Regions from separate parts of the Homo sapiens genome. Here regions 1, 3, 4, 5 and 6 are each reported to be linked to region 2. The links are microRNA targets in miRTarBase. Many come from high-throughput screens and were not tested one by one. Region 2 holds a microRNA gene; each other region holds the end of a gene's coding sequence. Distances are from middle to middle.

Region 1 (4,071 bases), not on the chromosome of region 2:
TATGATTGTTACCTTTATGAAGCTTTAGTGATTACAAAGCACTTTTTTTGTCCATTTTTACCTGAGCTTTGTAAACTCTGATTTGCAGGTAAGGAAATTTAGACTAATGGTTTAACTGAGTGCCTAAGAGCACATAATTAATAAAGGACTCTAAAACTCAGATTTTTAGATTTCTTGTCTAGCATTCATTTCACTGTATAATAGCTGCCATGATTCAAGGTATCCTTTTCCCCTCACTGGATGCAGCTTTTCATTATATAGTTCTTCAGTGTGTTTCTCCAGGGCTGATCTGTTAAGTGCACTGATGGAATTTTTATACATTCCCAAGGTATGTACAAGTAGATGCTTACAAAAAATTTTCATCGGTTGGAGAGTTTTTCCTCTACTTTCATCTTCATATCCCCATTGTCTAGTATGTGGCTTGCATATAATGCACATCATAGGTGGTTAGTGTTTTCATAATTGTTAAATTAAGATATTGCAAGAATTAAAACATGACTTTAATATTATATGTATTTTTTCTTAGGATGGCTGGCTGTGGTGAAATTGATCATTCAATAAACATGCTTCCTACAAACAGGAAAGCGAACGAGTCCTGTTCTAATACTGCACCTTCTTTAACCGTCCCTGAATGTGCCATTTGTCTGCAAACATGTGTTCATCCAGTCAGTCTGCCCTGTAAGCACGTTTTCTGCTATCTATGTGTAAAAGGAGCTTCATGGCTTGGAAAGCGGTGTGCTCTTTGTCGACAAGAAATTCCCGAGGATTTCCTTGACAAGCCAACCTTGTTGTCACCAGAAGAACTCAAGGCAGCAAGTAGAGGAAATGGTGAATATGCATGGTATTATGAAGGAAGAAATGGGTGGTGGCAGTACGATGAGCGCACTAGTAGAGAGCTGGAAGATGCTTTTTCCAAAGGTAAAAAGAACACTGAAATGTTAATTGCTGGCTTTCTGTATGTCGCTGATCTTGAAAACATGGTTCAATATAGGAGAAATGAACATGGACGTCGCAGGAAGATTAAGCGAGATATAATAGATATACCAAAGAAGGGAGTAGCTGGACTTAGGCTAGACTGTGATGCTAATACCGTAAACCTAGCAAGAGAGAGCTCTGCTGACGGAGCGGACAGTGTATCAGCACAGAGTGGAGCTTCTGTTCAGCCCCTAGTGTCTTCTGTAAGGCCCCTAACATCAGTAGATGGTCAGTTAACAAGCCCTGCAACACCATCCCCTGATGCAAGCACTTCTCTGGAAGACTCTTTTGCTCATTTACAACTCAGTGGAGACAACACAGCTGAAAGGAGTCATAGGGGAGAAGGAGAAGAAGATCATGAATCACCATCTTCAGGCAGGGTACCAGCACCAGACACCTCCATTGAAGAAACTGAATCAGATGCCAGTAGTGATAGTGAGGATGTATCTGCAGTTGTTGCACAGCACTCCTTGACCCAACAGAGACTTTTGGTTTCTAATGCAAACCAGACAGTACCCGATCGATCAGATCGATCGGGAACTGATCGATCAGTAGCAGGGGGTGGAACAGTGAGTGTCAGTGTCAGATCTAGAAGGCCTGATGGACAGTGCACAGTAACTGAAGTTTAAATAAAAATGTCTTCAGCTCCATGCTCAAGGTTGAAAGGGTTACCTGTAAATTTCTGCCCACATAACATTATACTCATCCCTAGTAGTGCATTTTGGGAGTTGGGGTGGGAAGGGGTATGGGAAGGATAGACTCATAATTAAAATGTCTAACATGTCTCTGTTGAGAAATTTATTTAATGTAAGGAACTTGGGTGTTAATAGTTGAGAGCTGTTTAGTAATAACCCAGTTTTCTTGAGGTCTGTTTACTTTATACTTTTTAAAAACTTCTGTAGTTCTTTTGGCCAGTGTGTTTGTATTATCTGTGCATTAATGGTCCTCATCTGACTCCTGCATTGTGTCTTATTTTTCTGCATGGATTGGCATAAGACCATTACTAAAATTTGGCACCTGTGAGATGTTTGATATTATGAACAGGAAACATAATTTAATGTATGAATAGATGTGAATTTGGGATTTCAAAATAGATGAATAACAACTATTTTATAGTAAAGTTATTGAAATGGAAATGAAAACAGCCAGTAACTTATGTTTCAGAATGTTTGTAACACACTTCATGGTGTTCCCATAGGCTTTGCTGTCTAGTCTTATAGTTTGAGGTTTTTTTGGTCTGCATTTTTCTTTTTGATTACAAAATTTATAATTTAATAAATACTAGAGTTTATCAAAAACAGTTTGTCTCTTGTTTGAGGGTGGAAAGGGTGTGGAAACATTTTGACATTTGTGACCAAAGGTCACTTAAAAAGTGGTGGTTTTAATTGGTTGTTTTCAGCTTAATCACCTGCTCAGAAAAGTTTGATTTTTTTCTTAGAGATTATTTAAACAGAATCTATAGGCAGTGTGTATATAATAAACATGTATGGAAATAAAACTAAAGCCTGTGAGACTTAAAATTCCTCAAATAGCATATACCGTTAATATTTTATATTTTCCTTACCATATTCATTAGTAGTCTAACACTCTGGATTAAATGGCAGACTTAACGGTGTTAGCAGACATGAATTCACTTTACACAAAATGTTGTAGACCACAAAATCCACTTTTATTTGGTAGTTTTTACATCTATGGCCAAATAGTATTGGGTTGACACAGTAATCTAGAGTTTACCTCTGAAAAAAAGTAATGTGAGTCTGTCTAACCATATTTTCCTAACTCAACAGTAGGATCATGATGGTAAGGCAAATGCAAGTTATTTTTACCATGATTCTCAAATGTGAATTGAATGTTACAGTAGCAAATACTTTTGACCTCTTGTGATGAGTCAGAACTAGAACTTAATTCTTTGACTTTCACATTTTTTAAAAAGTGTATTGCTGGGATCATAAACATTTTATGTTGTGCATTTTTATTACATTTACTTTTGAAAGATAGTTGTTAGAAGGTTAGTTGTTTTTCAGGAAAAAAAAGAAATCTGATGTAAAAATGCAAATTTATGTTGCAGGATGCTTCATGAGTCCCTTCAAGTGGTTTAAAACTACATCAACAGTAGTTGTTTATTACTAGTTGGAAATTCCAGGGCACACAAATGAATGTCCAATTGTAGAATCAGTTGACTTTCCATGTCATGGCTACCACTGTTTAGTAGGTAATTTACAATAGAAAACTAATTATTGAAAAGAACAAAGTTCCAAATTTGTAGTGGGTAGTGAGGTACATCTTTTTTTAAATGAAGGGCCATTTCCCATGAATTTTACTCCAGCTGTTTGGAGCAGAAGAAAATGATTGATCATACCCTTTCTTGTTTTCTTGTTCCCTGATACCTCCCCACTTTTGTTCTTTAGCAGCAACACTCAGTTATTTTGGTAAATTATTTCCAGGTAAAACAGAACAAAAATTGTATGAAAAGTAACGCCAGGAATAGGTTTTGTATAGAAGCTCTCCTTTTAAACACTGCTCTTTGGTTATAAGCTAAGAATTATTATTGGAATTGACAGCAATAATTTTTAAGCCAAAAGTGTATATTTTAGCTAAATGTTCCAGATTACGCAGTAAATACCCAAGTGAGTAATTGGCAAGAAATGAGGTAAATGAGTTCAGATATTCAAATGATTAAAAGTAAGTCTGCATATTAATAGTAGCCTTCAAAGTAATTCTGATGTTCATATTTAATATCATTTAACATTTATACATATTAGTCACTGGAGCTTTACTTGGAGTACATCCACACGAAAAACCAATTATTTATTAAATTTTCCTTTCTTAGCAATAGCCTCTAAATTTGCAGGCCCACCCCAAACTGTTCCTAAAAGATCTCTTTCGTTCTGTAATGCTTCCTCCAAATATAGCTCTCTGCCTGAACAAACAGATTTTTTCAAAGCTCTAATTACTTCCGGTGGCCCTTGGATGAATTGCTTTAGCCATTCTTGTGCCTCTTCTAGAGATTTAGTTTCATCTGAAGACTGCAAGACCTCTTCAACCATTCCTATGTTTAGAGCATTTTTTGAATCCAGTTTAAGGGCCCCACTCAAC
Region 2 (4,080 bases):
GATAGAAATTAAAGTTAGTCTTGATGGCTACCTAGATTTTGGATGAGTTCAAAGGATATACGGAGGGATTTCAGGCAAGATAATGTGAGCAAGGCATATCTGTGAAATAGAAAACAGTGCATTTTGGTGTATTGTGTGAAACAAGGTTGGTTGTGAAGGATTGGGTCCCTTCATAAAATTCCTTGAAAGCCAAGGAGAGTAGTTTAGATTTGAGATGGCAGGGTCTGGAGTGATTTAAGAATAAATTATAAAACCAAGGAAGATAAACTTGCAATCATAAGCAGGATAGGATATATACAGTATGGAAAGCTAAGCTAGAAAGCTGTTGCAATTTTCTTGCTATGAGGTGATGATAAAGAATTGATTAACGGTGGTCATATTCAGAAAGGATACTTAAGATTCCTGATATGCAGGGAGGGGGGAGAAAAAGTTGATGGTAACAGTACATTATATGTGGATGATGAGTATATTGGTGTTAGCACTGTTAAAAACATTATGGAAAGGAATGTAAGTGATAAAGTAGTATAATGACTAAATTTAGTTGGAAACTACTGCTGTAACAAATCTGTATACCATAGACCAAACAGGTGTTTAGTGGCCATTTAAAAATCTGTGCCATTATGGCAAAGGACATTTGCTTTGGTACAGAATAATCTGATCCACTGCGCAGTCAATGAGCAGTGAGGGTTGATTCCCATGGCAGTCCAATCTTTGCTTATCAAGGAAGGATGGTGTGAAGTTTCTACAGACTTTCTGGTAAGTGATTGATAGATGAGTTTATGGTGTGATTGAGTTTTTGCTTTGAGTTTATGCTTAGTGATTGATAGGTGAGTTTATGCTTTGTCAGGTAAAGCATTTAACTGCAAATGTATTATGTTTACACAAATATTCTTAATTGGAAATAGTTTCTGAATATGCACCTAAAAATGTTCTTATGAAATATGTCAGGCAGGCTGATTTTTAACTTGAAAACTTCTACTTTAAGAAATTGTTTGGGTCCCATCGCCTATACCATGTAGAATAGAAACAAAAAGCCAGTTATTTAATTTTTAATTTGCAATTAAACTCTTGGCCAAGAGGATCTGTTGTCCAAAATTACATCGTGATAGCTTAAGAAAAAAAAAATCTTACTTTGCCAGAAAGGGAATTATACAAGGATATCTTTATGAGTTGCTGCCAAATTTTGTTCTAGACCACGGCCCTCTGGCCTCCATGAAGGATCAAAGTCTGGGCAAAGACAATTCTAAGTTGTAGGTAAACATGCTTTTCATTTCCCTCCATTCCTTACTTTTGTCATAAGCAGTCTGGATTTTCAGGGGTAAAGGCTGATAGGGTTGCCAGATACAGTCATTAAAAATTGAGAATGTGCAGTTAAATTGGAATATCAGATAAACAATTTTAAAAATATATGTAACACACATATGCCAAAACACTGGTTATCTGAAATTCCAATTTAACTGGGCGTCCTGTATTTTATCTGACAAGCCCTAACTACTTCTTTAAAATAATTTGTTAACTTCCTACAAAAAATCTCTAAATGGGAGGAAAAAAAAAATCCCGTAAGTTGTCTGGGCCAAAAGCAGAAGTGGCTCCATGGCAGTCAGCCTTCTCCCTAACTTGGCTTAAAAAGAAAAAGCCAAAACCAGAAGTCCCAAAAGCTTGCGTTTAAAGCGGGCTGTGCCGCAGCTTTCCCGCCTGTTTTCTGCGGAATGTAGCACGGCAGCCACCCCGCGTGGGTGGGGCTCGTATGGTTGTGTCCTTGCTGGTTGGGAAAGGAGGTGCCGGAAACTTCAAACCACGGCCAGGGTACAACGTGTCCGCTTAGGCGGCGATATGCGCCGCCATCTTCTTTGCGGGCAAAGGCCGAAAAAAGTTTGGGACTCCACTCCCCCCCGCTGAGCCGATGGAGGGCATCGCCCGCTGCCTCAGCACTCTGGTGACGTGGAATCGGGGTCCCCTCTTTCAGGGCTGATTTCTGGTAGCACGCTGACGCCTGCCAAGGCAGGGAAAGGGGACGCCGCCTCTGTCCCGGATGTAAGATGGCGGCGCGGGGGGCGGCCTGGCGGGGCGGTCACGTGGTGAGGAGTAGCGCGCGAGCCTCCTTAAGTGATCTCTAAGGTTCGTCCGGACGCACAGGAGCAGCGGAGCGCGAGACGGGTCTTGTGTCCGCACGCGTCGAGTCGTCGCAGTCGCCACCCGGGCCATCGCCGGGCCCGGTTTCACTGTTAAGGGGTTTTCGTTTGTTCCGTTTTCGCCTCCTGTAGAGCTGAACGGGAATTCCCCGAAGGGTGCTGGGGAACGGGTGGCCTGGGGACTTCCCGGCTATGCCTTGGCTGCTGTTTGGCGGAGCCGGCGGCAGCCTCTGCGGGATGCCCGCCGGCGATTATCGGCGCCGAGAGCGGGCCGGCGGCGGGTTCGACAGCGCGGCGCGGGTGGGGGCCCGGGTACCGGACTCGGCCGCAGCCCAGCCCCCACCGGGGACTCGGAGCAGGGAGGGGCGCGAGCGGCGCAGCTCGGGACGTGGCGGCAGCTCCTAGCGGGCGAAGCGCGGGAGCGCTGCTCGCTGCCTCTCGGGGGCAGTCCAGAACCAGTTGGTGTCTGACTGCGCTTTTGCCGCCCATTTCCTGCTTTCGAGCGGCTGAGGCGACGCGCTCCCCTCGGGCAGTGGAGGGAGCGGCTCTCTCCGCAGGACACCGCCGCTTTTCTCTCTTCAGAGCGGTGGCTGACGTACAGAACGCCGGCTGTATCACCCGGGCGCCGGCGCCGCCTCTCATCCCCGTAGCTCTCGGGGCGCGCCGGGAGTAGCCGAGCCGCTGGGTGCTGGGCGGGGTCTCCGGGCGCGGCGCGGGGGGAAGGCAAAGGAAAAGAAGGGGCGGCGGGCCGACGTCGGCGGCGAGGAAGGACGGAGGAGCGCCGGAGCCGCTTTGCTGCCCTCCGCGTGGTCCCGTGCCTCCCCGACACCATGGCCCTGGCTGAGGTAGTAGTTTGTGCTGTTGGTCGGGTTGTGACATTGCCCGCTGTGGAGATAACTGCGCAAGCTACTGCCTTGCTAGTGCTGGTGATGCTCAGCGCCGCGGAGGACAATGGCTGGGAATCCCCTTTGTTTTCCGGGGCGCTGCCTGGGGACAGCCCGCGAAGCCTCGGCGCCCGGCCGGCGCGGCCACCACGGAAACCGTTAGTTTCACATTTTCCTAGAAGGAATTGAGGGGAGTGGGGTGGACCGCGATGCATTTTAAAGGTTGGGAAAGAGCTAAGCCATTGGATTCCTTTTCTTGAAGGAAGGAGTGGAATTGTGTAAGATAATTGATACAGATAACTTTTTCACCCTAAAAAATTCTAACACTTCTTTCAGCAGTTAAATGCCAAATTTAGTGTGTACCTGTTTTACTTCATTCTTTAGCTGTAGGTTGGAGTGGTGTGAGCGATCTGCAGAACTGGCATTAGAGGGGCAGAAGAAGTAGACCTGATAATTAAAGTTTATGCCTTAACATTTTAGATCTGGTTTCTGATATGCTCTCTTAGTAAATCTGAGTGTGTCTTTAAAAACGTAAACCCAAAGCAATTTAAAGTTTCTCTTTAAACTTTGCAACTCGCGAATGAGAAGATTGAAATTATTTGTAGGTAATTGCACTATTCCGATTTTTTAATGTATGAGGCAAACAAATAAATTCTATGTACAGTGTGCTGTGAATGGTTTTGTTTTTTGTTTTTTCTTTTTAGTTTAACCTTGGGGCTCAGATTCTGCTGGTGTGGTGGGTTGGTTTTTTGGTTTTTATGGCCTTTGATTCTAATGTTATGTGGTACTTACATCTTTGAGGTTTTGTATGGGAGAAGAGGACTAGGAATTGAAAGTGGTTTCTAGATTTGAGTTTAAAATCTACTAACACTCATTTTGATTCCTGAGTGGCCACTACTCCTAATAGGAAAATACCTTTGCATAGAGAAAAAAGGTAGTTTGGATAACTAATGAAAATACTCAGTGCTCTAATACCCTGAAGTCTGCGTGGAAAACAAGATACTTGTATTTTTATTTTATTTTCACTGAGGGAAGTAAGTGGTCAGTTTTAGTACTTTTCGTTG
Region 3 (4,088 bases), not on the chromosome of region 2:
AAAAAAAAAAAATCTTCAAATGGAACCCACCTACACCCAAGTTTTCTTTTTTACTTTATTTCTTATTTACTTAATCACATGGTCTTTCCTCTCCTGTGAGAATTAAAGTTGCCAGAAGTTGGTGGGGAAGAAGTCCTGCAGGAGGAAATGTTTGTAAATGTATAATTAATCATGTGTCTTTTTCGTTGTAGGAGAAGATTTACAAATCTCTGCCTGGATGCTGTTTGTGGTTACCTTGTTGAGCTCCAGTCTATGAGCTCGTCAGTAGCAGTACAAGCCATCACTGGGAATTTTAAATCTCTTCAAGCTAAATTAGAACGGCTTCATTAATTACTGTGATATACTTTCATCCGTTTTATGATCTGTAAAATAAAAACTCAGCTGGGTCCAGATATCAGGTGTTCTAAATCTAAGAATGTAAGAACAATCTTAATAGAAATATGTTTTTAATAAGTGGCTAATATCTACAAATAGTACCTTTGCTAAATGAATTCTTTTTTATGACTATTTTGTTTTTTAGTAATTGGGTGAAAAAACAACTGAAATGAGATTATTTATTATTTTAACATAAGGATTAAAAAAATTTAGAAACTCTTATTTTGAATTGTACTGCAGGCAGAAATTTCGAATTTATATTATTCATTTTCAAGTTAGTCCAAGGATATTGGCATTAAAACTCCACTAGGCGGCCAGGCACAGTGACTTACACCTGTAATCCCAGCACTTTGGGAGGCCAAGGTGGGCGAATCACGAGGCCAAGAGTTTGAGACCAACCTGGCCAACATGGTGAAACCCCATCTCTACTAAAAATACAAAAAAAAATAGCCAGGCGTGGTGGCGGGCGCCTGTAATCCCAGCTACTCGGGAGGCTGAGGGAGGCGAATCACTTGAACCCGGGAGGCAGAGGTTTCAGTGAGTCAAAATCGCACCATTGCACTCCAGCCCAGGCAACAGGGCGAGACTCTGTCTCAAAAAACAAAAAAACCTCAAATAGGCTAAGCAGATCCATTCCCATAATAGTGGATTCTAAAACCGTCCTTAAATAGGCAAATAACTGACTTTTTCAAAACTTTTTTTAGGTGTTGGGTTCACCCTTGAAAGAACTGTCCTCTAACAACTGGTTTTGTCAGTTAAAGCCCTTGAGAATTGACATAGCTATATACCTGGTTGAGCAGGTGATAAAACTTGTAACTAATGTTGTGTCCTGAAAACCTACACAGGGAGGTACTGTTTTCCCTTAGTGTCTACCTGGCTGCTTGGCCTTGTGACTACTGATTCCATTAGAGCAGTGGTTCTCAAAGTATGTGCTCCAAACCAGAAGCATCAGCATCAGCATCAGCATCACCTAGGAATTTGTTAGAAATGCAAATTCTCGAGCCCCAACCCAGACCTACTGAATCAAAAACGTGGGGGATGAGGCCCTGCTTTCTATGTTTTAACAAGCTCTCCAGGAGATTTTGGTGCATGTCAAATTTGAAAGCCACTGCAGTAAAGGATACTGCTACCTTCCATAGTTTATGGACTGAGCTACCTATCTGGCTCCTCCTCTGTGAATAACCACACACACAAATTTTGCCCAAGGCACACAATATATAAAGCAAAACTGTTAGTAATGTACTTTTTAATTATTCCTTAACAAAATAGAATAACCAAACCAAATGCTTCAAAGTAATAGCAACAAGAGAGAAGAAGAGTGGGAATGACCAGAGCTAACAAAACACTCTATTCCTTTCTCTCTTTTTTTTTTTTTTGGAGACAGAATCTCACCCTGTAGCCCAGCCTGGAGTGCAGTGGTGCGATCCCGGCTCACTGCAACCTCTGCCTCACAGGTTTGAAGCAATTTGCCTGCCTCAGCCTCTCGAGTAGCTGGGATTGCAGGTGTGCGCCACCATACCCAGCTAATTTTTGTATTTTTAGTAGAGATGGGTTTCACCATGTTGGCCAGGCTGGTCTTGAACTCCTGACCTCAAGTGATCTGCCCGCCTCCACCTCCCAAAGTGTTGAGATTACAGACGTGAGCCAATGTGCCTGGCCTATTCCCTTCTCTCTTTATGCTACCACAAATAATTACCTTCTGTTTATTGTAAGTGATGCATGTCTAACAATTTGTACAATACATTTTGAATATATTTTTCCTTCCATTATTGTCTTTTCCCAAGACCATAGGGTTGCCTTCTCTACATTTGTTCTCTTAGAATTCAGCTCCCTTTTCCCTATAATCTTCTAATGTAGAATATTTAATAGAATGCCAGAACGTCACTCAGTGGGTACTACTACCTCTTATTTTTCAACTTTTCAGTTTCTTAAGTTTAGCGTTTTTTGAATATGTAAAGTGAATGTATGCGATACATTAATTCGTTTTATAAATTTAAAATTCTGTCATGTCTACTTAAAAGGAAGGCCTTGTCTGAATGTTGTAATTTAGGTGTGACTCCAGTTCTGCTAGAGATAAGAACTTCATTTTTGTTTTAAGCACATTTACATACTAGCAATATGTTGTTATATATACTCAGCTCACAACATTGAAAGTACATGTTTTAAAAGGGCTGTAGGCTTCCATGGTTAGATGGTCTGTTAGAGTCAGAAATCTGAACACTGTCCTTTTATTCACACAGCATGCTTTGAGAGGTTTTAGGAATTCCAGCCCCACAACAGATGCTTGCAATACCTTTTGGGGGGTAAGATTCCTAAGAGAGAAGAAATTAGGTCCCCTCATTTTTACCCTTGGAACAGTGTTTCTAAAACTTTCACATTCAGAACAATCAGCCGGATAGCCTGTTATGACAGATTCTTGAGTTCCATCTGTAGTGTCATGCTGATCCTGGCAGTCAGTGGATCAGAGTTGGAGTAGCATTTATCCACTGTATTAGTATACTTTGTACTTGGTGTTTGTTCAACGCATTACTTTTTTGAATTTTTTTGTTTTTTGAAGACAAGGGCTTGCCCTGGAGTGCAGTGGCATGATCTTGGCTCACTGCAGCCTCGAGCTCCTGGGCTCAACTCAGTCTTCCCACCTCATCCTCTTAAATAGCTGGGACTACAGGCACGTGCTGCTACACCCTGCTATTGTCTGTTTGTTTGTTTGAGACTGAGTTTTGCTCTTGTTGCCCAGGCTGGAGTGCAATGGCACAATCTTGGCTCACCACAGCCTTTTTTATGAGACTGAGTTTTGCTCTTGTTGCCCAGGCTGGAGTGCAATGGCACGATCTTGGCTCACCACAACCTCCACTTCCTGGGTTCAAGCAATTCTTCTGCCTCAGCCTCCCGAGTAGCTGAGATTACAGGCATGCGCCACCATGCCTGGCTAATTTTTTTTTTTTGTATTTTTAGTAGAGATGGGGTTTCACCGTGTTGGTCAGGCTGGTCTTGAACTCCTGACCTCAGGTGATCCACCCCCCTTGGCCTCCCAAAGAGCTGGGATTACAGGCATGAGCCACTGCGCCTAGCCCCACCCCCCCTACTTTTTTTTTTTTTTTTTTTTTAATTTTTTGTGTAGCCAAAAGATCTCACTCTGTTGCCCAGACTGCTCTCAAAACTCCTGGCCTTAAGTGATTCCCCTGCCTCAGTCTCCCAAAGTGCTGGGATTATAGGCATGAGCCACCATGCCTGTCCATTATTTCTTTATAGTGACTATTATATGTAGGCAATGTATAATTGGTAGAACATAGTCTATGAAACAGTGCGTTAATTGTGGGCAGTGAAGAATCATTGAAGTTGTGAAATTTGTATTTTAACTAGATCATTGTAGTATGGCAAAACGGTTAGGAAAGAGAAAGCTATCTTGACTAACTGTTTATGCTATGAGATACTGACTGATGTACATGTACATTTAGTGTTTCTTTAGGTATACCTGACTTATTCATTGAACACCTATCCACTGATCTCAAAAGTATTCCTCAGGGTAGTCTCCATTCCTGTCATTTTTCCTCCTATTCATGAGACGGAAAAATTATGACCATGGTACAGAGTTGTATCAAGGAAATGAAGAACTAGAACATTGAATTGAAAGGTTTTGAAAGGGTTCACAATTTCTTTTCATTTTCTATTAATGTCTTCTTTTAAATTCTCTTAAGAATAAAACTTTTTTC
Region 4 (4,078 bases), 69 Mb from region 2:
CTGCCCCTGGTTATGTGGCTGGTAGGCATGGAGCCGCAGGTGCACCAGGCACTGCAGTACAGACCCCCAGAGGCCAGGGAGCACCAGCCGGGCTTTGCAGCTGGCTTTCTCGCCCACCCTGGTATCTGCACTATCACCTGCAGACACGAAGTGTGCAACCAGACCCTGGGAGCTTTCAATCTGGAAGACCGGAGGTGGAAGCCCAAAGCTGCAGGGCCAAGTGCCCGTGCACCCCCGTTTTTGTGGTGGGAGAAAAGATACAGAAACTAAGGGGCTTCTGGGATGCTTCTTTACTTTGCGTAATGTGTGCGTTTTCAATTAAAAGTGTACGTTGATTTTTGTAATCAGATTTAAAACGAAACGAAGAAAAGTCTAAAAGCAGAAGAAAAAGAGAAGCAACAACTCGCAGGCCATCTGCTCACAGGCGTTTTCGGTGGTGAGCACCTGTGAGCCGGTGTCCCTGCCCTTACTTGGGCACACAGACTGGGTGTGGAAGGACACTGGTGCCAGTTGGGCACACAGACTGGGTGTGGAAGGACACTGGTGCCAGTTGGGCACACAGACTGGGTGTGGAAGGACACTGGTGCCAGTTGGGCACACAGACTGGGTGTGGAAGGACACTGGTGCCAGTGTGGCCCCCAGGACATTGACGACGGGTGCTGTGAGGGTGGCAGGCCACATGGGGCAGGGCGGTGCCAGCTCTTTCCTCCACGTGCGGCTTTGGGAAGCGGCTGCCTGGTGGACTTGGTGAATGTGATTTCTGTTCCTTCCAGGTCCTTCTATGGCCACGGAAGAGTGGGTGAGGGGAACACCTCTGGCTCCAACATTACTTGTTGGTTTTTTCTTCACACAAATGAAAAATTCAGCATCTCATTTAACTTAAATACCAGTTTTCTATGAAAGACAAAATGAAAAAATATATAAAAAGGTCACTTTATTTTGCCTTTTGTTTGGTATGCTATCAATGCCCTTTAAAATCCTACTATTCAAGTACAAATGCTGATGTTTACAAAGTATTTACAATTTTAGTCTTGTTCCTTTCTATCTTAAAACACAACAGCTAACTGGTTACAACAGTTAACAAAATAATAATAATAAAGGTCACAAAAAGAGAAACCCCTGTCTTATCAGGCACCAAATCTGAACAAGGGCTTGGATCCAACCTTCTGCTTCCCGCCAGGTGCTTTAAAAACAGTCTGGCTAACTGTTTTTATCATCAGAATAAACGTCTTTCTTTAAAGAATAGCAGGGCAACTGTTTCCCAGGGTCGCCAATTAGAGTCTGACAGTGTTCGGGCTGCTGCCTTTATAGTCTGTGTTCTCAAAGTTTCCAACTCTTACTTGCCGTATTGGAATGAACCCAGATTCACAAGGGGAAGGCCTAGACAACAGCTTCCTGAACGCGTACTTAATTCTTAGGTTAGAAACTTTAACCTTTAAAAGGGAAGGCCAAGAAAATAACACACTAAAAGGAGAGTTTTTACGTACACGACTAAATGAATTTAACTCAGGTCAACGGTAGCATCTAGAAGTTACTAAATTGAGTGCTACGAGTAAAAATATGTCCGTGTTTTGTATTAGGGAACAGCCAAAGGAAACACACTTGAGAGACAGGAGACCCTCACTGACGTGAGATCGGGGCGGAAACTCCACATTGCAAATATTCAGAATCCCATTAAGCTCTCCAAAAAAGCATTTGAGAGATGGTGTTAAATTCTCTTGTAGTGTTTTAGATTAATAGAGCGCTTTTACTTAGACAGTTATGTCTAGGATATTCTAAAATAAGTGCACTCAACATTTTATCTTCAACTATAAGGAGACTACCAAGATTTGGGAAAGACAAAAAAAATGAACAGGGCACACAAATTAAAACAAATGACAAAGGCAGAATTCCTAGATACTTCAGTTCTATCACATCTGCGGATGAGGAGGAGTAAAAGTTTCCACTGGGAGCCAGATGTGAGGCGCACACAGCGGCCCTCCCTCCGGCAAGCTGCGCTCTCACGGCACGTGCCAAGCCAGGGAGAACGGGTTGGTTAGAACAAACAGATTCCAGTCCTCTGCTTTGGTATGTTCAACTAACTAAAAGATTAATTTCTTCTGTTTCTTCAAAGCTTGGTTTTTACTTTTCTCCACATTTCTTATCAAGAGCTCAAGTGAGCTCCCCAGTTGATTTCACTGACTCCTGCTGTATCGCTGTCCACAGAAACCTGTGGGACAGAATACCTTCCTCAATGTCACTTAAAGTGAGAGAATGGGGAGGAAGCAGATGAAATACAATTTAAAAACAGAAAATCTTTATTGTGCCATAACTGATTTTTAGTATACAAAAAACCTAATATAACCTAATTTCCTGGACCAAATAATGTAAAATAGGCCAAAATCAAGCCACAGCACAAAGGATACTATTGGATATGGACCTTTTTGCTTTGGTGAAAACTTCAAAGTAAGGAGACACTGTCAATCAATTCCACTAAAATTGCATTTATTTTCCTGTCATAGTAAAAAAAGGAAAAACAGTAGCAAATACTGGGCTTCGTTTTCCCCCTCAACGGCACGCCTTCCACAACAGCACAGGTGGTTCTCTGCTTCACTGGCAGAACCACACAAGCTTATCCTAGAGAAAATCTGCTGTCGTAAGTCCACAAGGAAGAGTTGACTGGGCCCACCGCTATAGCCAATACTTCCAGAATCACCAGCCCACCTTCGTCAAAGGGCTGACTGTGGCAGCAAGGGGTGTCTGTCACATTCGTCCTGGCTCACTGAGCCCAGGCCTCATCGTACCCTCAGCTGTGACATCTGTACTACCATTGCCTCTGCGTGGTCCTCTGGGCCTCACGCCAGCCATGGCAGAGTGTCCCAAAGGTTCTCAGGAGCTGTTTAACACACTATGTCAAATACCAGCTTCCCCCGAAAACTGGAGATGCGTCTTGAGTGCACTGAGTTGGGCATCAGTCCCAGAAGTTTCCATTAAATGAAAGCGAATCCCATTGCAGGGTAGGGCCTGGGGGAGGCCACTGTTGGCTGCTCTTTGGAATAACAATGCAATGACTGATCATTTCCCTTGAACACAGGCCAGGAACGTGCCTTGTGTGTTTAGGTGGGTGTCAGAACATTTCTCTTAAAAGTTAAGTCATATTTTAGGAGGGAAGGAAGGAACCATATTGCCTTTCTTTGGAATGGAAAACCCATCTCGGATGATTGACTTTAGACAGGCCTTCCCCTCTGCGAAGACCACGAGGCATTTTTCAGTAAGGTATAAAGAACTAAACTCTGGCAGACACTGTGGAAGCCCACGCCTTATCTTTAGAAAGTCCATTGTATGCTCCTCACACACGGCAGACGGCTTCTGTGGCGTGCAAAGCACTACATGCTCACAAAGAAATTCTAAATGGCTTTCAGAACACAGTACTATGGCTCTAGGGGACGGGTGCGGGTGGGGACTGAAAGGTGAAATGATTTAGAGGAAGCCATGTTGTCACTTTTTCCATGAGCCACGTAGTACAGAGAACGCGGCACTCCATAAGGACCATTTGTCCTGCAGTGTGGGATGCATTTTAATAAAATGATTACACTATTTTGTTTCAATTATATCTTTCCCAGTGCTGAATCTCTTGCGTGACATGGTCCCAAGGTTCACTAATAAAGCGTTTTCTGTGAGGAAGGTAGTTTTGCTTTAGATGAGAGGCAGCCCTGCTGCCCTGACTACTGGCACGGAGGCTTAGTAGGTGTCTTTAGCCTGACAGCAGGGACCCTCATCTGTAACTTGGGCTGCTGGCTTGGGCTGTCGGAGCTGGCGGGCACCTGGGCTGGGTTGGGAGCGCCTGGAGTCTGGAGCGGGGCCGACGCCGTGGTCACCACCTGCTGCTGAATGAGTTTCTGCTGAACCACCTGGGCAGTCGCGGTCACTGCAGGGATCATCTGCACCTGCTGCCCGGCCGCCGTCGCCTGCGTGAGCGCCACAGTCTGTGGAGAAGCCTGAGCCGAGAGAGTCAGAAAACACACATTGCCCAGGAAACTCAGTCCAGGGACAGGAAAATGGACGTTCTTTGGGATGGGGAGGACTCGAGAAACTTCAC
Region 5 (4,088 bases), not on the chromosome of region 2:
TGCTCACTTCTGGCCATTGCCCAGCATGGGGAGAATGGGCCTCTTCCACGAGGAGCCTGGCATGGCCCCTGGGGTTACAAGGTGCCATGTCTGCCTCTCCCTGGGTTGGTGGCAAGCTTCGTTTTTATTGGCCCTGCCTCCCGGGTATTCTGCCCAGCAGCCAAGCTTTGAGGCTGACTTTAGCCTTTAGGTGCTTCCAATAAGGAATGCCTCCAAGAGGCATTCTTAGGCCCATGGCAAAAAGTGGTATGGGCTAAGGTGGCCTCTGCATCACGGGTAGGCTGTAGGGGATGAGCATAAAAAGCAGCTGAGGCAGGCAGCCAGCTACCATGGGAAGACAGAGATGGCTGGTCTCCCAGGCCCAGGTTAATCACTGGGGGGCCACTTACTACCATGGCAAGGGCTGTGACGACAGCAGGTGAGCACAGGGTTTGCCTTTCTCCCCGCAGGGGTCTTCACGGCTCCTTATGATGGGCGCTACCTGATCACGGCCACCCTCACCCCCGAGAGAGACGCCTACGTGGAAGCAGTGCTGTCGGTCTCCAACGCCAGCGTGGCCCAGCTGCATACCGCTGGGTACAGGAGAGAGTTCCTGGAATACCACCGCCCTCCAGGAGCTTTGCATACCTGCGGGGGCCCGGGGGCATTCCACCTCATCGTGCACCTGAAGGCGGGAGATGCAGTCAACGTCGTGGTGACTGGGGGCAAGCTGGCTCACACAGACTTTGATGAAATGTACTCCACATTTAGTGGGGTTTTCTTATATCCTTTCCTTTCCCACCTCTAAGGTGGCTGGGGAGATGTCAGGGGAAAGATAGATAGTTGTAAAAACTCTAAAGCTTTAATATATTCGGTTTGTATGTAATGGAAGCACGGGGCTAGAGTTTCCACATAGGCCCCAACATAAAGGCCTTCCCTCGCTGTTGAGGCCACCATGCCTTACTGCATCCAGCCAGGCTGCAGGGAGTGAGGCACACGGTGAACATGGCCACTGACTTTTCTGCCACTCTAACTGGACAACTGGAAGACTTGGAAAGGCCTCCACCTGTATCTACACTCTGAGGGCCCTGGACTGGGCCTGAGCTTGCCACAGAGGCTCCGTCTGACTGTGGGCTGGGAGGAGGGAGGCAGGGGAGAGCCGGTCACGGTGGCTGGTCTTTACTGCAGGGCAGCACTGTGGCCAGCTGTCTGTCTTTACACTGCATGCAGAAGTTTAAACACTGAAGTGCCGAAGTGGCCCGTGCCGCCGCACAGAGACCCCGACTTTAGTTTGGGCTGTTCCACGCTTGGCTCACCATTGCCGCCTGGGACTTAACCTGCTCAGGCGGGCCTTCGCCCAGCTGCAAATAGGGATGCGTTAGAGACTGTTCCCAAAGCTTGTTGGGCTCCTTAAATGGCATGTACAATTTAAGTGCAAAGACAGGGAGTGTCAATAAAGATGGAAAGCCATTTCCAGTTAACTTTTGTTAATTTAAGTGTGGTCCCTTACAGATCGGGAGTTGTTGCTAAAAAGCAAACTGAAGAAATGTTTTGTTTCAAAAAGGGCTACAGAAAGTAACCTTGAGTAAAATTAATCTCAGCTACAAAACTGTTACCCCTCCGCATCCAAGCTATACACTTGGGTTTTGTTTCTGGCTTGTGAAGACGGACCAGATGTGCACGGAGGTCAAGGCCCCATGTCATCTGCAGCTGGAGCGGCTCCTCTGGGGATGCTGCACTCAGATCCCACAGCAGCTGCCCAGGCTAACTTGATCCCTGCTGCTTCACTGCACCAATCTCCAGCAGACACAGCTCGCCGAGCTCTTGGGTTTCTAAGCAGCAGGAAGCTCAACCTAACGCTGGCCACACGCTGACAGCTGAGCCCATCTGAGAACACGGCATCTTCACACAGCGAGACGCCTCCACTGAGGGGAGGCCCGGGAGTATCAATCTGTCACCAGTGGCCACGGAGACCTCTCAGCACCCTTAGTTCAAGGTAGTCTCTGTGGATCAGGTTGGTAACACCTACTGGTTAATCAAGTCCCACTGGGGAAAGGTTTGGACGGTAGAATCAAGAGCTGCAGTTTCCTTGGCCCACAAGATGCTCTTATGCTGTAAAAAAAATGCTTTAAGAATTGTTTGCAAATGAATTTACAGGGTGGCCACTGGACACTTCAGAGTTCCTTATTTACTCCCCCCGCCACAGCTAGGAAGACCAGCAAGAACTAAAGGTTTGCCGTTTTACTATTTAAAATGTGGACCTCTTTGTCCAGGAGCGGGAGGGAGAATGGCATCTCACCCCATTACAACAGCTGGGGAACTGGCTAAAGAGAGCTGTCAGAGAGTATCCTTGGCTGTCCTAGGAATGACTCATGGAAAGCGCCCCAGTGCAGCAGTGTTTTCAGGAAAACCCAGTGGGCACGCGCCATCGCCCTCTCCTCTCCTCTCACGCTCCTTTTGAAAAGACCGCACTCGGCGCCCAAGGGGACGTGCTCAAGAGCTGCAGGGGCAGGGCCCAGGCAAAAGGTGGGTGATGACTACCTGCTGCTTTCCCTACTCCGTAGATGGGTCTGGAACATCGGGTAAAACCCAGTCCTCCTCTCAGTGCATCTCTACTCACCAACAATGGTGAATCTCAGCTCTGTGTATTCAAGACAGGCAAAACAGAATATGCCTCATTATGGCTGGAGCGTGCCTCTACTTTGAGATAAAGCTGGATGACAGGTGGATCCTGGCCCACTTAGGAGACATCTTTAGAAAGGGAAAGGCTGTCTTTTTGTACAGGTAGTAGAACAACAAGGTCAGCTGAGCTTAAGGCTGTGGGGTTCGAAGCAGCCCTTCAAGAAGTCATCACCCCTGAAGTAGTGCCTGCGAGTCAGTCAGAGGCATACCAAACCCTGAGACAGAATCAGGCACAAGTTCACAACTTTTTTTTTTTTTTGGGGGGAGACAGTCCTACTCTGTCGCCCAGGCTGGAGTGCAGTAGCGCGATCTCAGCTCACTGCAACCTCCGCCTCCCGGGTTCAAGCAATTCTCCTACCTCAGCCTCCCGAGTAGCGGGGACTACAGGTGCATGCCGCCACGCCCGGTTAATTTTTTGTATTTTAGTAGAGATGGGGTTTCACCGTGTTGCCCAGGCTGGTCGCGAACTCCTGAGCTCAGCCAATCCGCCCACCTCGGCCTCCCAAAGTGCTGGGATTACAGGTATGAGCCACCACGCCCAGCCAAGTTCACAACTTCTGATATCAAGTTGTTGCTGAGAAAAGGTCAGGACACTTCTTAAGTAGAGAAGGACTGTGACATCCCCTCCAAACCTCCATGTAACACTAACAAATGGCCTCATTTACACGATTAAAAACAAAATGGTATCGTCAATAAATGCAAACCTTAAACTGCATTTGAAATTACTTCCTGGTTGGCATGTTAATCTAGCTTTCCCAGGTGACTAATTTTCTCACAGTTTATGTATTTGCAGCTTGACAGGGAGTATTTGTGATTGGAGTCACTTCGTTCATGCCTGTAAGCTTGGAAACCCAGCTTTGCACATATCCAATCCACACCACAGCCCCTTTCTAAAGATAAATGTGTATTTTCCTTATGCCATCCTATAAACGGGAAAGAAAATGGAAGGACACATGCCAACTCCAATGGGTGCGGGGCAAAACAGAGAGAAGCCACACGCAGGCACGTCCTCAGAGCTCAGGTATGCAAAGTTCACTGCTCCCCTGAAGCCCTCAAAGCTGCTCTGGGTAAAGACCATTTCCTTTGTAACCAATTTCCCTGAGCTCTTCTTTTGCATTCCCAAAGACCCATGGTTGCCATCACGTCATGCAAACAAACATTTCCATCCTGAACACACGCTCCTGTGGAGGGCCTTTGGGATGCAGGGTTCAGCATATGCTGCATCTGGTAAGGGCCCAGCAATCTGAGAGGACAAAACATCACCATGTAAGTAATATATGCGATGTGGTTTTGATCAAAGGTCACTCTGACTCTGTGATGAAAACATCAGGATTGACTGCTAAATCATACCCACCCTAAGGAAGGGTTTAAGGAAAGGTGGGGTGTCCAGGGGCTCTGGACAGGACTCCCAGGGAATTCAAGTGCTT
Region 6 (4,088 bases), not on the chromosome of region 2:
CGGGATTGGGTGTCCCACTGCCCTGGCTTGGTGTCCAGCTGGAGGGGGCAGTGCCAAGGGCCCTGTCTCACCCCAGAGGTGGAGGGGTCTCCCCAGCCTTCCTCACCGGGTGTCCCTGACCGCCCTATCCCCTGCAGGCTCCTGCTTCTGGGTGGCCGTGCTGGATGGCAACGTGGTGGGCATTGTGGCTGCACGGGCCCACGAGGAGGACAACACGGTGGAGCTGCTGCGGATGTCTGTGGACTCACGTTTCCGAGGCAAGGGCATCGCCAAGGCGCTGGGCCGGAAGGTGCTGGAGTTCGCCGTGGTGCACAACTACTCCGCGGTGGTGCTGGGCACGACGGCCGTCAAGGTGGCCGCCCACAAGCTCTACGAGTCGCTGGGCTTCAGACACATGGGCGCCAGTGACCACTACGTGCTGCCGGGCATGACCCTCTCGCTGGCTGAGCGCCTCTTCTTCCAGGTCCGCTACCACCGCTACCGCCTGCAGCTGCGCGAGGAGTGACCGCCGCCGCTCGCCCGCCCGCCCCCCCGGCCGCCCTGTCCGCCTTTGCCCGCCTGCCCGCCGCCCGGCGCGGCCTGCTTTCAGACGCTCAATTGGCGTTTGTGTTGGGTTTCCCCTTTTCAACATCCTGCGGTTGTCTGGCTGGTTCCGGGGGGTGCGGGGCTGTTGTTCTTCGGCGACACTTTGGTGGGGGTGGGTTGTTTGTCGCCATAGCCCCTCGCCCTTCCCCACCTGCCTGGGCGGCTTGCCACCTGAAGAGTGGCATCTTGGACCACCGCGGCTGTCCATGACGCTGCCCTGCCCGCCGCCACTGGGGAAGGCCCAGCCTTGCTCACCAAGCACAGAACCTCTGCAGCAGATCCCGGGGCCAGGCTCCGGCCCCGCCTGCGGCCCCAGCGCCACTGCCTGTGGAGGCCCCAGCTGGCCACGGCGCTGCTTTGCTCCGCGCATGCCGAGGGTGTGGCCCGGCTGAGCATGCCGCATGCACACAGCCCCGCCCTGCCGCCCTGCCCAGACTGGACCCGGAGACCCGGGCTGGTGAGCGCCCCTGTCCCCAGCCCCCAGCTGGCTGTGGGAGGGCCTGCCCCTGCCCCCACCTCCTGGAGGGCCTGGTCTGCCCCGCGCCGCCCGGCTCTGTCCACACCTGCTTTGCTCTGACGCCCTCCATTTCTCTGGCTCCGGCCCCTCCCCTGCCTGGGCTGTGCTGACTGGTGTCATCACCCAGGTGACTCCCATGGCGTCCGTGGCACAGCCAGGGTGGGGGTCCATGGGACCCCTCTCCCCAGTGCCCACTGGATCGTGCTGGCCTCTCCCAGATGTCCCCGGGGACCTCCTGCCTCTGGCTGACGGTCCACCCTGTGAATCTTATCAGCCCAGGCTGCTGCCAACAGCGCCCAGCCCACAGCTTCTCCCAGCCTGAAACCAACACATTTTCTAATAAGTTATTTAGACAGAATAGCACTCTGCATGACTTTAATTCTTGGGACAAAACGGTAGTTTGTACCCTAAGACACAGTTTCTGGCCCAGTGTGATGGGGGTGGGTGGCCGGGTGGGTGGAGCGTTTTGCTGTTGGAAACCTGGAGGGAAACCCTGATTGGATGTCATTTCCTGCCATGGAGCACGCCTCCCAGCCCTGGCCTGCAGTGTGGGCAGGGTGGGGGGCAAGGGAGTCCGCAGCCTCCGGGAGGAGGGGCAGGGCGCTGCCTTGGGCTGGGTGGGAAGAGGGGTGGCCGCCTCGGCTTCCGCTGGCCATGCTCCTGGTCTCTCCTTCCTGAGGTCACAGGCAGGGGCTGCCCTGGACGGGGGGCGGGGGGGGTGGCCTGGAAGGGGAGACAGAGGTGGAGGGTGGCACAGGCTGCACATTCAGCTTAGAAGTGGACCTGGCTTTGGTGGCAGGAGAAGAATAAACACTTGCCCAGACCCCTTTGTGTGGGGGAATTGGGGAGGGGTCGTGGCAGGCAGGGTGGGCCACGGAACTGGGTCCCAGGCATCAAGGCCACGTGCAGGGCCATGGAGGGATGCTTCTCACGAGGCGCTTCAGAAGCGAGCGAAGGGACAGAGAAGCCCTGCGTCCAAGGGCCTTTTGTCCTGTTAGCAATTGAGGTGTGCAGAGCACTGTACAGACCCCACTCCCCTGTACATTCCTCCCTGGAGGTGCCCGGTCCCCGCTTGGGGATGGGAGTTTTGTAGACTGTACAGAAATCGGCACCCTATTTTCTTGCAGCTCAGATTTTGTTAATCTGGAATATACAGACAGACGTAAAGTGTTTTAGCAAAATGGAAACAAACAGTTGTGCCTTTTTCCTCTTTTGGTTTGGTTTGGGTTTGGCCTGGGGCTGGTCCCAGTTGGTGCGGGGCATGCTGGGGGCAGGAGGGGCAGGGCGGGCCAGGTGGAGTCAGGTCTTGGGGGTGTCATGTCGGGGTGCTGCCAGCGTCCCTTGGTCCTGTGCCTTTGGAGCCTCGGGCTCCTGGGGTGCAGGGTGCTTGGGGGTGGCTGTTGGAGCCCACCGACGCCAGGGCAGGGCCTGGAGGCCCAGGGACTGCCAGTGTCTCCTTGATATTGATCCTAGCAGATCCCCCTCCTGGGGGTTCTGAGAGTCCTGGGCAGTGTGGCCTTCTCTCATTCTGGTGGCATCTGCGCCCGTGAGTGACCTCTTCCTTGGCTGCACTGCCCTGTGGGTGGTGAGACGCTTGGCCTTTTTTGTTGCTGCCAGGACTTGGTAGAGATGGCAGGAAGGGTGTGCGGGGTGGTTGTGTGCAGAACCCTGCCGCCCCTGAGGTGAGCAGAGGCACTGGTGTGCCTGCCAGGCTGGGGCGGAGCTGCCCGGAACCCTTGCCAGGCCAATGTGTAGCTTGGTGGCGCCCTTGAAGGCCACTGGGGGGTAGGTGTGTCCTCCCCCGGGGCTGGAGGCCGGGTGCCTGGTGGGTGGGCCTGACCTGGCCCACCTCATCCCTCCAGCCTGGGATCTCACTGCTCTGCACATGTGCACTGACGTGAATTTTATACGTTTGTAGAAACTCTGATGTAACTTCTTCTACCTCTGAAGCGCCCTCCTGGGCCCTGCTGTCACGTGGCTGGTGCGGCTTCCCCGAGTGCTGGCCCCCTGCCCGCTCCCCATGGGCACCCACCACTCAAACTCTGCGTGGTGAGGCCCGGGGAAAGCCAGGCCGGGCCCTAGCACTGCTCAGGGGCCTGGGGCTCCTGGGATTTCTGTGTGTTTGGAAGCCTCTGTTTTTGGAGTGGGGGGCGTGGAAGGCGGGAGGGGCTGACAGTGCCTGGGGCCAGAGCTGGGCGAAGGAGGACATCCTCACTGGACGAGCACTGCAGGCCTGACGAGAGGCTCCGGGCAGCTGAGGGCTGAAGCGCCTCGGGATGCCCCACACTGCCCAGAGCCACGGGTCTTGCTGTGCTGGGGGTGGGGTGGCCCCAGGCAGCTGCCACTGCCCAGGTGTGAGTCGCTGCAGACCTGGTCCCTGAGGGTGGGAGGCCTGCTTGTGCTGAAGCTGCCATGTGGTCTGGCCCCCAGAAGGGCTCCTGAGCGTAGGGAGTTGAGCCCCGCAGCCGTGGCGGCATCTCCTCCTCCTTCCTCCGCCCCATGCCCAGCCTTGCTTCCGGCTGGTGGCATGCCTTGGGGCCGGGCAGCAGGTGAGAAGCTGCCCCCGGAGGGAGGGGCCAAGGGCTGGGTCAGTCTGGCCTGAGGGGTGGATGGCTGGCCCTGGGGGAAGGCTGGGCCTGGGAGGCCCTGTGGACAGCAGGCCTGAGGCCACGAGGTCCTGGGGCCACCCCTCTCCTGCTCTGGGTGTCCTTCTCAGAGAAGATGGCAGAAGGCTGCAGGCCCTAGAGGGGACGACGGGCTGGGGACGCCCTGAGCTTCCTGGCTGTGTGGCAGGTGCTGGGGAAGCTCTCTGGGCCATAGGGACCTGGCTCCCCTCTGAGAGGCCCGCCTGCCCTGGGGCACCCAGGGCTGTGCTGGTGGCCTGAGGCTGGGAACTTGGGTTCCTGGGCTCTGCTGGCGCCTGGGCTTTGTGGGGGCCGAAGGTGGTTGCCCCGCCGGGCAGGGGGCTGTGTGGGCCCTCGTGGGG

What was found. The annotated mature microRNA hsa-let-7i-5p reads UGAGGUAGUAGUUUGUGCUGUU and lies in region 2 at 2,974-2,995, shown strand. An mRNA with a match to its seed (bases 2 to 7 or 8) in the 3' UTR can be bound and repressed. Matches are read on the target gene's strand: a 7mer-m8 pairs with bases 2 to 8, a 7mer-A1 pairs with bases 2 to 7 and ends in A, and an 8mer does both.
Region 1: the mRNA of ECHDC1 is a reported target of hsa-let-7i-5p. Seed matches in the 3' UTR shown: 7mer-A1 at 3,622-3,628 and 7mer-A1 at 3,249-3,255.
Region 3: the mRNA of NUP155 is a reported target of hsa-let-7i-5p. Seed matches in the 3' UTR shown: 7mer-m8 at 2,274-2,280.
Region 4: the mRNA of EP400 is a reported target of hsa-let-7i-5p. The part of its 3' UTR that is shown has no 7-base or 8-base seed match.
Region 5: the mRNA of EMILIN2 is a reported target of hsa-let-7i-5p. Seed matches in the 3' UTR shown: 8mer at 3,016-3,023.
Region 6: miRTarBase lists NAT8L as a target of hsa-let-7i-5p. Seed matches in the 3' UTR shown: 7mer-m8 at 3,041-3,047.

What each region holds. Positions count from the first base shown.
Region 1 is chr6:127,286,090-127,290,160 of GRCh38, forward strand. ECHDC1 (ethylmalonyl-CoA decarboxylase 1) reads right to left here. Exons shown (of 6, transcript NM_001002030.2): 6 at 2,623-4,071. The coding sequence ends at 3,780. It overlaps RNF146 (ring finger protein 146), which reads left to right. Exons shown (of 3, transcript NM_001242850.2): 3 at 527-2,473. The coding sequence ends at 1,604. Among named protein-coding and RNA genes, the nearest start is that of RNF146, 21 kb to the left of the region's middle.
Region 2 is chr12:62,600,718-62,604,797 of GRCh38, forward strand. It overlaps MIRLET7I (microRNA let-7i), which reads left to right and starts at 2,969; the gene lies at 2,969-3,052. LINC01465 (long intergenic non-protein coding RNA 1465) reads right to left here and starts at 2,717. Exons shown (of 1, transcript NR_121682.1): 1 at 1,034-2,717. MIRLET7IHG (MIRLET7I host gene) reads left to right here and starts at 2,026. Exons shown (of 2, transcript NR_186001.1): 1 at 2,026-2,118. RefSeq lists enhancers at 1,320-1,843, 1,844-2,365, 1,880-1,989, 2,070-2,259, 2,366-2,887 and 1 more and silencers at 2,340-2,649, 2,740-3,039.
Region 3 is chr5:37,288,142-37,292,229 of GRCh38, reverse strand. NUP155 (nucleoporin 155) reads left to right here. Exons shown (of 35, transcript NM_153485.3): 35 at 192-4,088. The coding sequence ends at 330. Among named protein-coding and RNA genes, the nearest start is that of CPLANE1, 41 kb to the right of the region's middle.
Region 4 is chr12:132,077,300-132,081,377 of GRCh38, reverse strand. EP400 (E1A binding protein p400) reads right to left here. Exons shown (of 53, transcript NM_015409.5): 53 at 918-3,977. The coding sequence ends at 3,705. Among named protein-coding and RNA genes, the nearest start is that of SNORA49, 48 kb to the right of the region's middle.
Region 5 is chr18:2,912,618-2,916,705 of GRCh38, forward strand. It overlaps EMILIN2 (elastin microfibril interfacer 2), which reads left to right. Exons shown (of 8, transcript NM_032048.3): 8 at 450-3,386. The coding sequence ends at 787. Among named protein-coding and RNA genes, the nearest start is that of LPIN2-AS2, 52 kb to the right of the region's middle.
Region 6 is chr4:2,063,623-2,067,710 of GRCh38, forward strand. It overlaps NAT8L (N-acetyltransferase 8 like), which reads left to right. Exons shown (of 3, transcript NM_178557.4): 3 at 138-4,088. The coding sequence ends at 505. Among named protein-coding and RNA genes, the nearest start is that of NAT8L, 6.3 kb to the left of the region's middle. RefSeq lists an enhancer at 2,910-3,523.